Regions from separate parts of the Homo sapiens genome. Here region 2 is linked to region 1. The links come from fine-mapping of genetic effects on gene expression. A gene starts in region 1. The other region holds a variant in brackets. All regions are shown on one strand. Distances are from middle to middle.

Evidence for each region. PIP is the estimated chance that this variant, and not a neighbour inherited with it, causes the effect.
Region 2: its variant is the best candidate, but not a certain one, in a credible set for the expression of PSMG3-AS1 in cerebral cortex (GTEx, PIP 0.69).

The regions. Positions count from the first base shown.
Region 1 is chr7:1,566,815-1,572,181 of GRCh38, forward strand. It overlaps PSMG3-AS1 (PSMG3 antisense RNA 1), which reads left to right and starts at 3,259. Exons shown (of 5, transcript NR_027329.1): 1 at 3,259-3,465. PSMG3 (proteasome assembly chaperone 3) reads right to left here and starts at 3,218. Exons shown (of 2, transcript NM_032302.4): 1 at 2,310-3,218; 2 at 518-1,036. The coding sequence starts at 2,525. The coding sequence ends at 884. RefSeq lists enhancers at 104-672, 499-793, 673-1,241, 2,948-3,516, 4,140-4,209 and 1 more and silencers at 2,890-3,319, 3,760-3,839.
Region 2 is chr7:1,588,256-1,593,622 of GRCh38, forward strand. It overlaps PSMG3-AS1 (PSMG3 antisense RNA 1), which reads left to right. Exons shown (of 5, transcript NR_027329.1): 5 at 1-1,371. LOC105375123 (a long non-coding RNA gene) reads left to right here and starts at 4,184. Exons shown (of 8, transcript XR_001745048.2): 1 at 4,184-4,676; 2 at 4,848-5,057. The variant T/C (reference allele first, on the strand shown) is at 3,336.

The DNA.
Region 1 (5,367 bases):
CCACCCTGAGGCCCACGCCTGCCAACACTGCTCCCCACAAGACTAAGTCCTGCAGCCTCAGCCCAGAAGGACCCGCGCCTACCCCCACACGGAGGTCATGTTCAGCCACACCCCAGTGAACCCTGGCGACCCACCCCACAGTGCCCTGCCCTCCCGTGCTCCTCTCTCCTGACCTCTGTGCACGCTGCTCCCTTGACAGAAGCGTCCCCCCTCCCTTGCTATGCAGGATTCAGAGGACAGCGTCTGTCCCCAGCTGCAGCACGGTAACGGGCACACACATTAAGATAGTAAGAGATGTCCGCTGACGGCCACCAGCTTCCCAGCAGGCTCAGAGAAGTTACTGGAGTTGGAGCTGGGTGACAGCGTGCACAGGCCCAAGCATGGGATCCACCCAGTTCCTGGGAACTACGTCCCTCTGCGTTTCTGCCCAACAAGCTTCCCTTCATGAAGCCCATGAAACTGAACTCATGCTGTGCGGCTGCAATGTCTCGCTACTGTTAAGGAGGACAGTGAAGTATTTTGGGATACACATTCGCTTTTAATAAAAAAGAAATTTCCTCCTACAATTGATCCTGCACACGGGGGGGCCATGAGCCACGCCTGCTGACTCATTCCTCCAATTCTCAAACACAAGCAACGATTCAGGTCCTGGTGAGAACCATTCACGACTCCTCCGGGACCTGTTCCACCCTCCCCGTCATGCACAGATGATCTTAGTAACCAGAGTAAGAGTCTGCCTGAGACACGAGTCTTTTTTCCTGGCTCCAAGGGCTAGTGCCAAAGTTCCTCCCTCCACCGGGGAGGGAGGTGAGACTTGAGTCCCTGAGTGGGTGTCTGGGTGTTCACGTGTCCTGCTGAGCAGCGCGGGGCGGCTGCCTCCAGGTCACCACACCTGGCACACCCGGATCACCTCCCTCAGCGCCTTCAGCCCCTCCATGCTTTTGTCCTTCACGGCCACGGCGAGGAGGACTGCTCTGTTTCCAGCTTCTTGAGACACAAACGCTACCAGGTTCTTTGCAAAGACATGGATGAGAGGCTGGTAAAGGAAGGAGAAGAAACCATTTTAACTGCAAGAAACCTGGTTTTTTCCTCAATGCTTTCATGAAGTATCCCTTAGGAACCCAGGCAGGCTTCCCACACCACCATTAACCGCCACATAAGTCCATGCAACTGTGACTCAGAGTTCTGGCAGCACTCAGAACACTCCAGTCACGGGCACACTGCTAAAGACCATCACTCCATTCATTTTCCCAGCGCCTTCCGCAGCCCCGCCTCTTCTGGCTCTCTCTCATCTAAAAGAACCCAGGAAAGAGAAGCCTGCAGAAGCGAGTGCTGTCGAATCTCACGTGTGATCTCCACAGAGCACAGCACAGCCAGCCGCCTGCTCACGTAATGTACCATGGCAGGGGAGGCGGCTCGAATGACAAAACTGCTGCTTCTGCTTGTCTGCTGGATAAAATGCCTGCGGGCTGGACAAAGCATCCACTGAGGGCAAGCAGGGCGCCTTGAGACCCACAAATGCCCGGAAAATGCTATCGCTGTAGGGGTATTTGTCCGCCAGATGCCCCATGTCCTTACTGACAAATCACAGCCACTGGAGAGGTTTATGCTCCTCCCTGGGGGTCCCTTCCTGACCACTTTATTATTATTATTATTATTATTATTATTAAAGACAGAGTCTTGCTCTCTCACCCAGGCTGGAGCGCAGTGGCACAATCATGGCTCACTGCAGCCTCAACCTCCAGGGCTCAAGCCATCCTCCCACCTCAGCCTCCCAAGTAGCTGGGAGCACAGGCACACACCACTAGGCCCAGCTAATTTTTTGTTTCCTTTTCTTTTCCTTTTTTTTTTAAGACCAAGTCTCTATCTGTTACCCAGGCTGGAGTGCTGTGGCACGATCTTAGCTCACTGCAACCTCCGCCTCTCGGGTTCAAGCGATTCTTCTGCCTCAGCCTCCTGAGTAGCTGAGATTACAGGCATGTGCCACCACACCCAGCTAATTTTTATATTTTTCGTAGAAATGGGGTTTCCCCATGTTGGCCAGGCTGGTCTGGAACTTCTGACCTTAAGTGATCTGCCCGCCTCAGCCTCCCAAAGTGCTGGGATTACAGGTGTGAGCCACTGCACCCAGCCTCTCTCTATATATATATTTTGTGTAGGCACTTGTTTTTTTGTAGTGACTTGTGTGTGTGTTGTTGTGTTGCCCAGGCTGGTTTCAAACTCCTGGCCTCAAGCGATCTGCCCGCCTAGGCCTCTGAAAGTGCTAGGGTTACAGGCGTGAGCCACAGTTCCCGGCCAATCCACTTTACCTCATCCTGCCCCAGAAGGACTTTTGTGGTGAGCACAGGCTTGCTGACGTCACTGGCCACGCTGCTGGGCTCCAGGGAGACCAGGGTGCCCATCTTCCCAAACTGGGTCACCACCACCAGGATGTGACTGCTGAAGGCCGTACACACCACCTGGGTGGGGACCCCGCACACCACCTCCGTCTTCTGCTTCGATATCACCAACGGCGTGTCTTCCATGGCGGGGCTCTGCAGTGGCAGCTTTAATTTAGGTTAAAAAGAAAGGGGAAAAAAAGGAGTCAATCAAACAGTACAGCCTTGGGGCTCCCAAAAAAGTAGCACGGGGCATTGAAACGGAAACGCAAGGAGGCCCATTCAAAAGAAGGGGCCAGGCGCGGTGGCTCATGCCTGTCATCCCGGCACTTTGGGAGGCCGAGACAGGACGATCGTTGAGGCCAGGAATTCGAGACCAGCCTGGCCAACATAGCGAGACCCCCATCTCTACCAAAAAAAAAAAAAAAAAAAACCAGCAGGGCGCGCCTGTGGTCCCAGTTACTCAGGAGGCTGAGGCGGGAAGATCGCTTCAGCCCGGGAGGTCGAGGCTGCGGTGAGCCGTGATCACACCATTGCATTACAACCCGGGCGGTAGAGCGAGACCCTGTCCGTAAAAAAATAAAACAGAAGCAGGAGCGGGGCCGCCCATAGAGACCGCGCCTGGGGCTTTCTGGGTTAGGGGATCGACTTGCACGTTCACACTGCCAGGCCGGGCAGTGGCTTCCCGCCCCTCGGCCTCGCCGCCGCCCCGGCCCTGCAGCCGCGGCCCGGGACCCCCACGACACGCGGTGCCGAGGCCGGCCGGGCTACTGGGGACGCAGCCGCCCGGGGAAGCCCGCGGGTACCCGCGCTCACCAAGCCGGCGCCGCGCCCGGAAGTGGCTCTGCGTGCGCCACGCGGGCCCGCCCCGTCCGCGGGTTCCGTCCACCTTCCGGAAGTCAGGGCCGCGGCGCTTCTGGTCCCGGAGACTTGGGGCTCCCGGGCTTCTGAGCGGCTCGGGTTCCGCGCTGCCGGCAGGGCTTGGGGGCGCCTTAGAGCCGAACCCCGTTTTTTCAGGAAAGGGCGCTGCGACCACCCCCGTCCCGGGCCTCAGCCCCTCTGCTGCAGACCCTCGGGATCGTCGCTGGTAGGAGCTCTGTCCCCCGTGTCTGTGTCCAGGACCCCCGAAGCGCCGCGCCTAGGAACCCCCTAGCGCTGGGAGCCCGGCCCTGCTCGACCACGGGCTTTGGGCTGGAGGCGTCATCGTCGCCACAGCGAACGCTTATTTGGCACCGAGTGTCCGCCAGGCATCGCTCTAAGCGCTTTATACCCATAACTCACTTCATCTCAGCCACCCGGTTCCGTAGAAGCGTTTCATCCGCGTTTTACAGACGTGTGCAGGTGCAGAGAGCTCGGCCAGGCTCAGGCGGCGGGCGGGCTGGGGTGGGCTCCGACCGTCCCTCGGGCGCTCCGTGACACGAAGCCCCGGCCAAGGCCAAGAAGGGGGCCAGCCCCACCCTGAAGCGGGATGAGTTCTGGTTCCTCCCAGGGACCCCCTCACTCCCTACTGCTCACTCTCAGTTTCTCCAAGCTGGAAGGTTTTTTGTTTTGTTTTGTTTGAGACGGAGTCTTGCTGTGTCACCCAGGCTGGAGTGCAGTGGCGCGATCTCGGCTCACTGCAGCCTCCGCCTCCCTGGTTCAAGCAATTCTCCTGCCTCAGCCTCCTGTGTAGCTGGGATTACAGGCGTGCGCCACCAGGCCCGGCTAACTTTTTAAATTTTTAGTAGAGATGGGGTTTCACCATGTCGGTCAGGCTGGTCTTGAACTCCTGACCTCAGGTGATCTGCCTTCCTCGGCCTCCCAAAGTGCTGGGATTACAGGCGTGAGCCACCGCGCCCCGCTGCTGGAAGTTTTATTGGTAGGGTCGGACATCTTGGTAGCAGAGGCTGAAAGTGATTGGAGCCTCCAGAGCCTTCCTCGGGGTGGGGCGTTTAACATCCCTTCAGAACCCCACCCTCGGAGGCCTTACTGTCGTTTCCTGACAACCATGTCAAGGCCGTATTTTCTGTCTATATTACCAGAAAGGGGTCCCGATCCAGACCCCAAGAGAGAATTGAGGGCGAGTCCACAAAGTGAAAGCAAGTTTATTAGAAAAGTAAAGGAATTGAGGCAGGAAAACAGGGTCTGGAGGCAGGGAACACTTCAGCTATGACAGGAAATACCCTCTCCATAGGGTGTACACTGAGTAAATGATTTTGTAACTTTATTTCATCCTCTTTATTTACATAGGGCGTACACCAAGTAACCAGTAGAAACCCCTAGAGGGTATTTAAACCTCACAAGTTCTGTAATGGGGCCCTGAGCCTCTATGCTTTGGCCGCCCCCACACCATGGAATGTACTTTCATTTTCAAAAAATTTCTGCTTTTGTTGCTTCATTCTTTTTTTGCTTTGTGCATTTTTTTTTTTTTGAGACAGAGTCTCTGTTGTCCATGCTGGAGTGCAGTGGCGTGATCCTCACTGCAACCTCTGCCTCCCGGGTTCAAGCAATTCTCCTGCCTCAGCCTCCTGAGTAGCTGAGATTACAGACGTGCGTCACCATGCCCGGCTAACTTTTGTGTTTTTAGTAGAGACGAGGTTTCGCCATGTTGGCCAGGCTGGTCTTGAACTCCTGACCTCAGGTGATCTGCCCGCCTCGGCCTCCCAAAGTGCTGGGATTATAGGTGTGAGCCACCGCGCCCGGTGGCTTTGTGCATTTTGTCCAATTCTTTGTTCAAGATGCCAAGAACCTGGACACCCTCCACCAGTAACAGAATAAAGAATGGCTACTCCATAGGCAGAGCAGCATGGGCTGCTGGTTGCCCATTTTTGTGGTTATTTCTTGATGATATGCTAAACAAGGGGTGGATTATTCGTGCCTTACCTTTTTAAACCCTTTAGGGTAACGTCCTGGCATTGCTATGGCATTTGTAAACTTACGGCGCTGGTGGGAGTGTAGCAGCTGGGACGACCAGAGGTCACACTCATCGCCATGTTGGTTTGGTGGGTTT
Region 2 (5,367 bases), 21 kb after region 1:
TGAAGGATGCAGTTGAGAATATGTGCTTTCTTTGGTAGGTGATCTCAGGAATTGCAGGGGAAAGAGGGGGAGCGTGTTAGTGTAGGCTCTCCGGAGAAGCAGAACCAACGCACAGAGGAGATTTAGGATGAGGAATCTGGTTTATGTGACTCTGGGGGCTGAGAAGGCCCACCATCTGTGTTGCAAGCTGGAAACCCAGGGAAGCCTGAGGTGTGATTCAAACTCAGCTCAGGTCTGGAGGCCTGAGAACCAGGGCAGCCGATGGTGGACATCCAGTCCAGGGGCAAGAGATGACGAGATGTCCCGGCTCCAGTGGCGAGGCAGGAAATGAGGGGTGAACTCCTCCTCCCTCTGCTGTCTGTTCTATTCAAGTTCTTGAGGGATTGGATTATGCCCAGCCACTTGGGGAGGGCAGTCCACCTTCCTGAGTCCACAATTCAAATGCTGATCTAATCCAGAAACACTCTCACAGACACAGTGTGTAGTCTGGGCACCCCACAGTGCACTTAAGTGGACACATAAAATTAACCATCCCAGGGAGTGAGATGGGTAAGGGAAGATGGGCCACAGTGGGTGTGTCTCCATGCCTACCCCCACTGTGGGCAGCTGCTGGAGCACACGCCTCAAAGTCTTCCCTGAGGGAGAGGGAGCTGAGGTGTTTATATCCCAGCTCTGTCAGGCATTGGCTGAATGTCCACACTCCTGGATCACCGCCTCTCATCCTCATGATGTCCCATGGTCCTCATTTCACAAGTGAGCTCTGGGTACATGGGGAGCATCAGTCACACCCTGGGTCAGTACCTCAGCTGTCTCTCACATGACATCCTCATTATCCACACTGCAAAGCCAACCATCCCTATGATGGGTTCATTGTGGATCATGACTTAGTGGGTCAAGAGTTTGGAAGTGGCTCAGCTGGGCGGTTCTTCTGCTCCATGTGGCTGCCAGATGGTACCCTGCTGGTGGGCAGTCTGGTCTAGAGGGTCCATGATGGCTTTACTCACATGCCTGGCATCTTGACAGGGACAGCTGGAAGGCAAGGTTCAGCTGGGACTGTCCACAGAGCTCCTCCCTGTGGCCTTTCCAGCATGGTGGTCTCAGGGTAGCTGGACTTCCTGCATGACAGCTCAGGGCTCCCAGAGCTACTGTCCCAAGAGATAGAAGGTGGAAACTGCCAGTCTCTTAGGCTAGGACCAGAAACCAGCACCCCTGCACCCACAGCCTTTTGGTAGTGATGAAATAAACATAAGATTTATCATTTTAATCATTCGTAAGTGGGATTAAATACATTTACAATATTGTGTAACCATCGGCACTGTCTATATCTAAAACTTTTTCATCATCTGCAATAAAAACTCTGTATGCATTAAACCATAACTCTCCATCCTTCTGCCCCTCTTGCCGCTGGTACCCACCATTTTGCTCTACCTCTATGAACAAGGCCATTTCAGACACTTCACATAAGCAGAATCATACAGTATCAGTTTTTTGGCAATTGGCTTATTTCACTTTACATAATGTCCTCGAGTTTCATCCACATTGCAGCACATGACGGCACCTCATTTCCTTTTAAAAATTTTTTATTTATTTATTTTTTATTTATTTATTTTTGAGAATGAGTTTTGCTCTTGTCACCCACCTGGAGTGCAATGGAGCAATCTCAGCTCACTGCAACCTCTACCTCCTGGGTTCAAGCGATTCTCCTCCTTCAGCCTCCTGAGTAGCTGGGATCACAGGCATCCACCAACACACCCAGCTAATTTTTGTATTTTTAGTAGAGGCGGGGTTTCACCATGTTGGCCAGGCTGGTCTTGAACTCCTGACCTCAGGCAGGTGATCCCCCCCGCCTTGGCCTCCCAAAGTGCTGGGATTATAGGCGTGAGCCACTGTGCCCAGCCTTCATTCCTTTTGAAGGCTGAGTAATGCTCCACTGTGTGGAAGGACCACGTTTTGTGTATCCATTCATCGGTCCACGACACTTGGGCTGCTTTCCCCTTTTGGCTGTTGGGGACGGTGCTGCTGTGAACGCGGGTGAACAAATGACTCAGTCCCCACATGCTCTTGATGGAGCCCGGAGCCCACAGATTCAACGGGAGGGGGAACAGCTTCCTCTCAATGGGAGGGGGGCAAAGAATTTGCAGTCTTTTTTCTGTTCATTTGTTTGTTTGTAGACAGGGTCTTGCTCTGTCACCCAGGCTGGAGTGCAGTGGCACCATCAAAGCTCACTGCAGTCTCAACCATCTGGGCTTAAGCGATCCTCCCACTTCAGCCTCCAGAGTAGTTGGGACTACAGGTGCATGCCACCAAGCCTGGCTAATTTTAATGTTTTTGTAGCAAAGGGATCTGGAGATGCTGCCTAGGCTGATCTCAAACTCCTGGACTCAAGGGATTTTCCCACCCCGGCCTCTCAAAGTTGTTGGGATTACAGGTGTGAGTCACCTTTAATTCCCTGCACCGTGCTAGACAGAGATTGCTGAAGACTGTGTTCCCGGGGCCACATAGCAAATCTGCCAAATGGCAGAGGAAAGGGGAGATAGGGGCCCGGGGTCTGGAGAAATGAGGCTGGGTCTGGGGAAGACAGGTCAGAGGCAGCGTGGCTGGGAGATGCAGCTGGGAGAAGTGGAAGGAGAGGGTGGGCGTGGAGGCTTCCGGAGAGGGGTGGGCATGTATCATCCCTCAGGAGTGGAGAGACTTGGGTTGGGTTCAGAGAAAACCAGGCTGGGGAGAACTTGAGAGCCCAGGCGTGAAGGCTGATGTGTGTCTGGGCTTCACCGCCCTGAGCTGTGTGGTCAGGAGCCATCACTGAAACTCTCAAACATCCTCTTTTATAAGATGGGAATAATAATAGGACCCCTTCAAAGGGCGTCGAGGGAATTCAGAGGGAAAGTCTGTGCATACCTCTGACCTGGCTGTGATATTCATTTTAGGAGTCAACTTGACTGGGGTAAGTGGCGCCTAGAGAGCTGGTAAAAAACATCACTTCTGGGCGTGTCTGTGAGGCTGTAATGGCCAGCCGGGTGGGTCCAAGCTCTCTTCAGCAGTCCCCGGGGCTGGCAGCTAGCAGGTCTTGTGGTCTCTGAGGCCTTGGGGGGCACCTCCCGTTGTTTGCCCCCACCTACATCTGCTCAGAACACGCTTCCCACCTCCACCGCCCCTTCTCCCTGCAGGACCACCTGCCTCTTCCTGCCTCCCCGCCCAGCCTGCCTTTTCCTTGCACGACAGCCAAAATCCCATTCCCCCAAGTTTCCAGAAGGGATCAGCACTTGAATCAGCAGACCAAGTAGACAAGTCCACCCTCCCCAATGTGGGCAGGTGTCACCCAAACCACTGAGGCC[T/C]CCCCCGGGACAAAGGCAGGGGAGGGAATTCTCTCTCTTCCTGTGCTGGGACATCCATCTCCTCCTGACTTTGGACATCGAGCTCCTGTTCTCAGGCCTTCAAACTTGGACTGAATTGCTCCACTGGCTTCCCTGGGCCTCCAGCTTGCAGACAGCAGATGGTGGGGCTTCTCAGCCTCTGTGATTCTGTGAGCCGATTCCCATGTAGATCTCTCTCTGTCTCTCTCTCTCTCTCTCTCTGTCTGTCTCTGTCTCTGTGTCTCTGTACACACATGCACACACAGACACACACATATATCCTTTGGTTCTGTGTCTCTGGAGAACCCTGGCTAATCTATGTGCACTTCCCAGCCACCCAGCCTGAGCCAGAGCTGTCTGGGAGGCTGCAGCCTCCCTCGCCGGGAGCCCACATCAGTCAGACGGCTGTGGGTTGGCGGGTGGTGGGGAGTTCCCCTCCCCGCAGCATCCAGCTGGTGGTCCGAGGCGCCGCGGCCCCTCACAGGGCTCTGCCTGCGGGAGGCTGGACTGGTTTCCTTCTTGGGCATCTCAGGATCTCAGCAGAAACTGGGGACTTCCTGAGGTCATGCTTCCGAAGGTGGGACGTCCTCACTGCATGCCACCGGCCGACAGGAAGCATGGCTGGCCCAGCCCTCCGGGGATGGAAATCCACTCTACTCATGACTGGGCAGGAAAAATGGGGCGCGAAGGATGGGAAGAGCCGTGGCGGCCCACCCAGAGACCGGCCAGCTGGCGTCTAGCTACAAGAGGCCATGCAACAGTGGGAGTGGGTGGTGGGGCCGGGCGGGCAGGAGCAGCCCACTCTGCGGGGGTGTGGGGACAGACACGCACTCTATGGAAGTACCTCGGTGGCACCAGGAGTCACTGGGGGCACCCAGCAGGTGCATGCTTAATGCATGATGGGTGAGACGTAAACAGCCAGCCAGGCGGGTCCAAGCTCTCTTCAGTGGTCCCCAGGGCTGGCAGCTGGCAGTGCAGGAAATGGGGTCCCCGAGGCCTTGGGGGGCACCTCCCGTTGTTCGCCCCCACCCACATCCGCTCAGGACACGCTTCCCACCTCCACCGCCCCCTTTCCCTGCAGGGACACCTGCCTCTTCCTGCCTCCCCGCCCAGCCTGCCTTTTTCTTGCACGTCAGCCAAAATCCGATTCCCCCAAGACTCTGCCTCATCAAAGATCCTCTTTCTCATCACCATAATTTTCCATTTGTAGGTTAAGCTGCACCTGGGGTTCTCAGAAATCTGCTAACTCTCTTCCAACTCCCTGAACTCCTCAAACGCCTCGTCCTCCCCTGCTTCTGTTGTTCAGAGGACAGGACGTAGCAGGTGGGGGCGTGGAGAGGGGGCGGCTGGGGAGTGCCTTGTCCGGGAACATCTTCGGAGACCATGTATGGGTAGGGGGGAGCCAGGCTCCTCCATCGAGTCCATAGAACTGTTTACCTGGAAACAGCAAGACCGAGGCAGCTGTGCTCTCACCTTTTTGTCCGTCCTTTCCAGGGGTCTGGAATCTGAGGCTCAGAGCCCTTTCCCAGGAAGAAGAGGGCAACCAGCCCCTTTCAGCATGTCCCGTGCTCCGTGCACCTCTGTGACACCTGGTTACTGTACTCTGAAGCTTCGCACACCCCCGCAGTCTCCATCGTAACCCCAGAAAACCAAGGCTCAGAAGGCGACGGGCCCCAGGGCACCCGGACGGTGACGACGGTGGCTGTGAGATGACAATCTGGGTCTCTGGGATTTCAATTAGGTTTGGAGGATAAAAGGTGTGAATAGGAAGCTATCACACAAGCTAGAACATGCCCGGTCCCAGATCAGGCTGTATTCCTGTGATTTGGTGTGGGTACAGAGGAGAGACTCTCCCTGGGGGTCCAAGTGGACAGTAGCATTGGGGAGGGCATCCCTGGCAGGGGGCATGGCATGGGACAAAGGCTGGGGGGAGGGAGGCTTGGGGCAGATTGAGTGCAGGATGCCTGTGTGTGACCAGGCCGGGCGGCCCCCAGGCCTCGGGGCAGCCAGACCC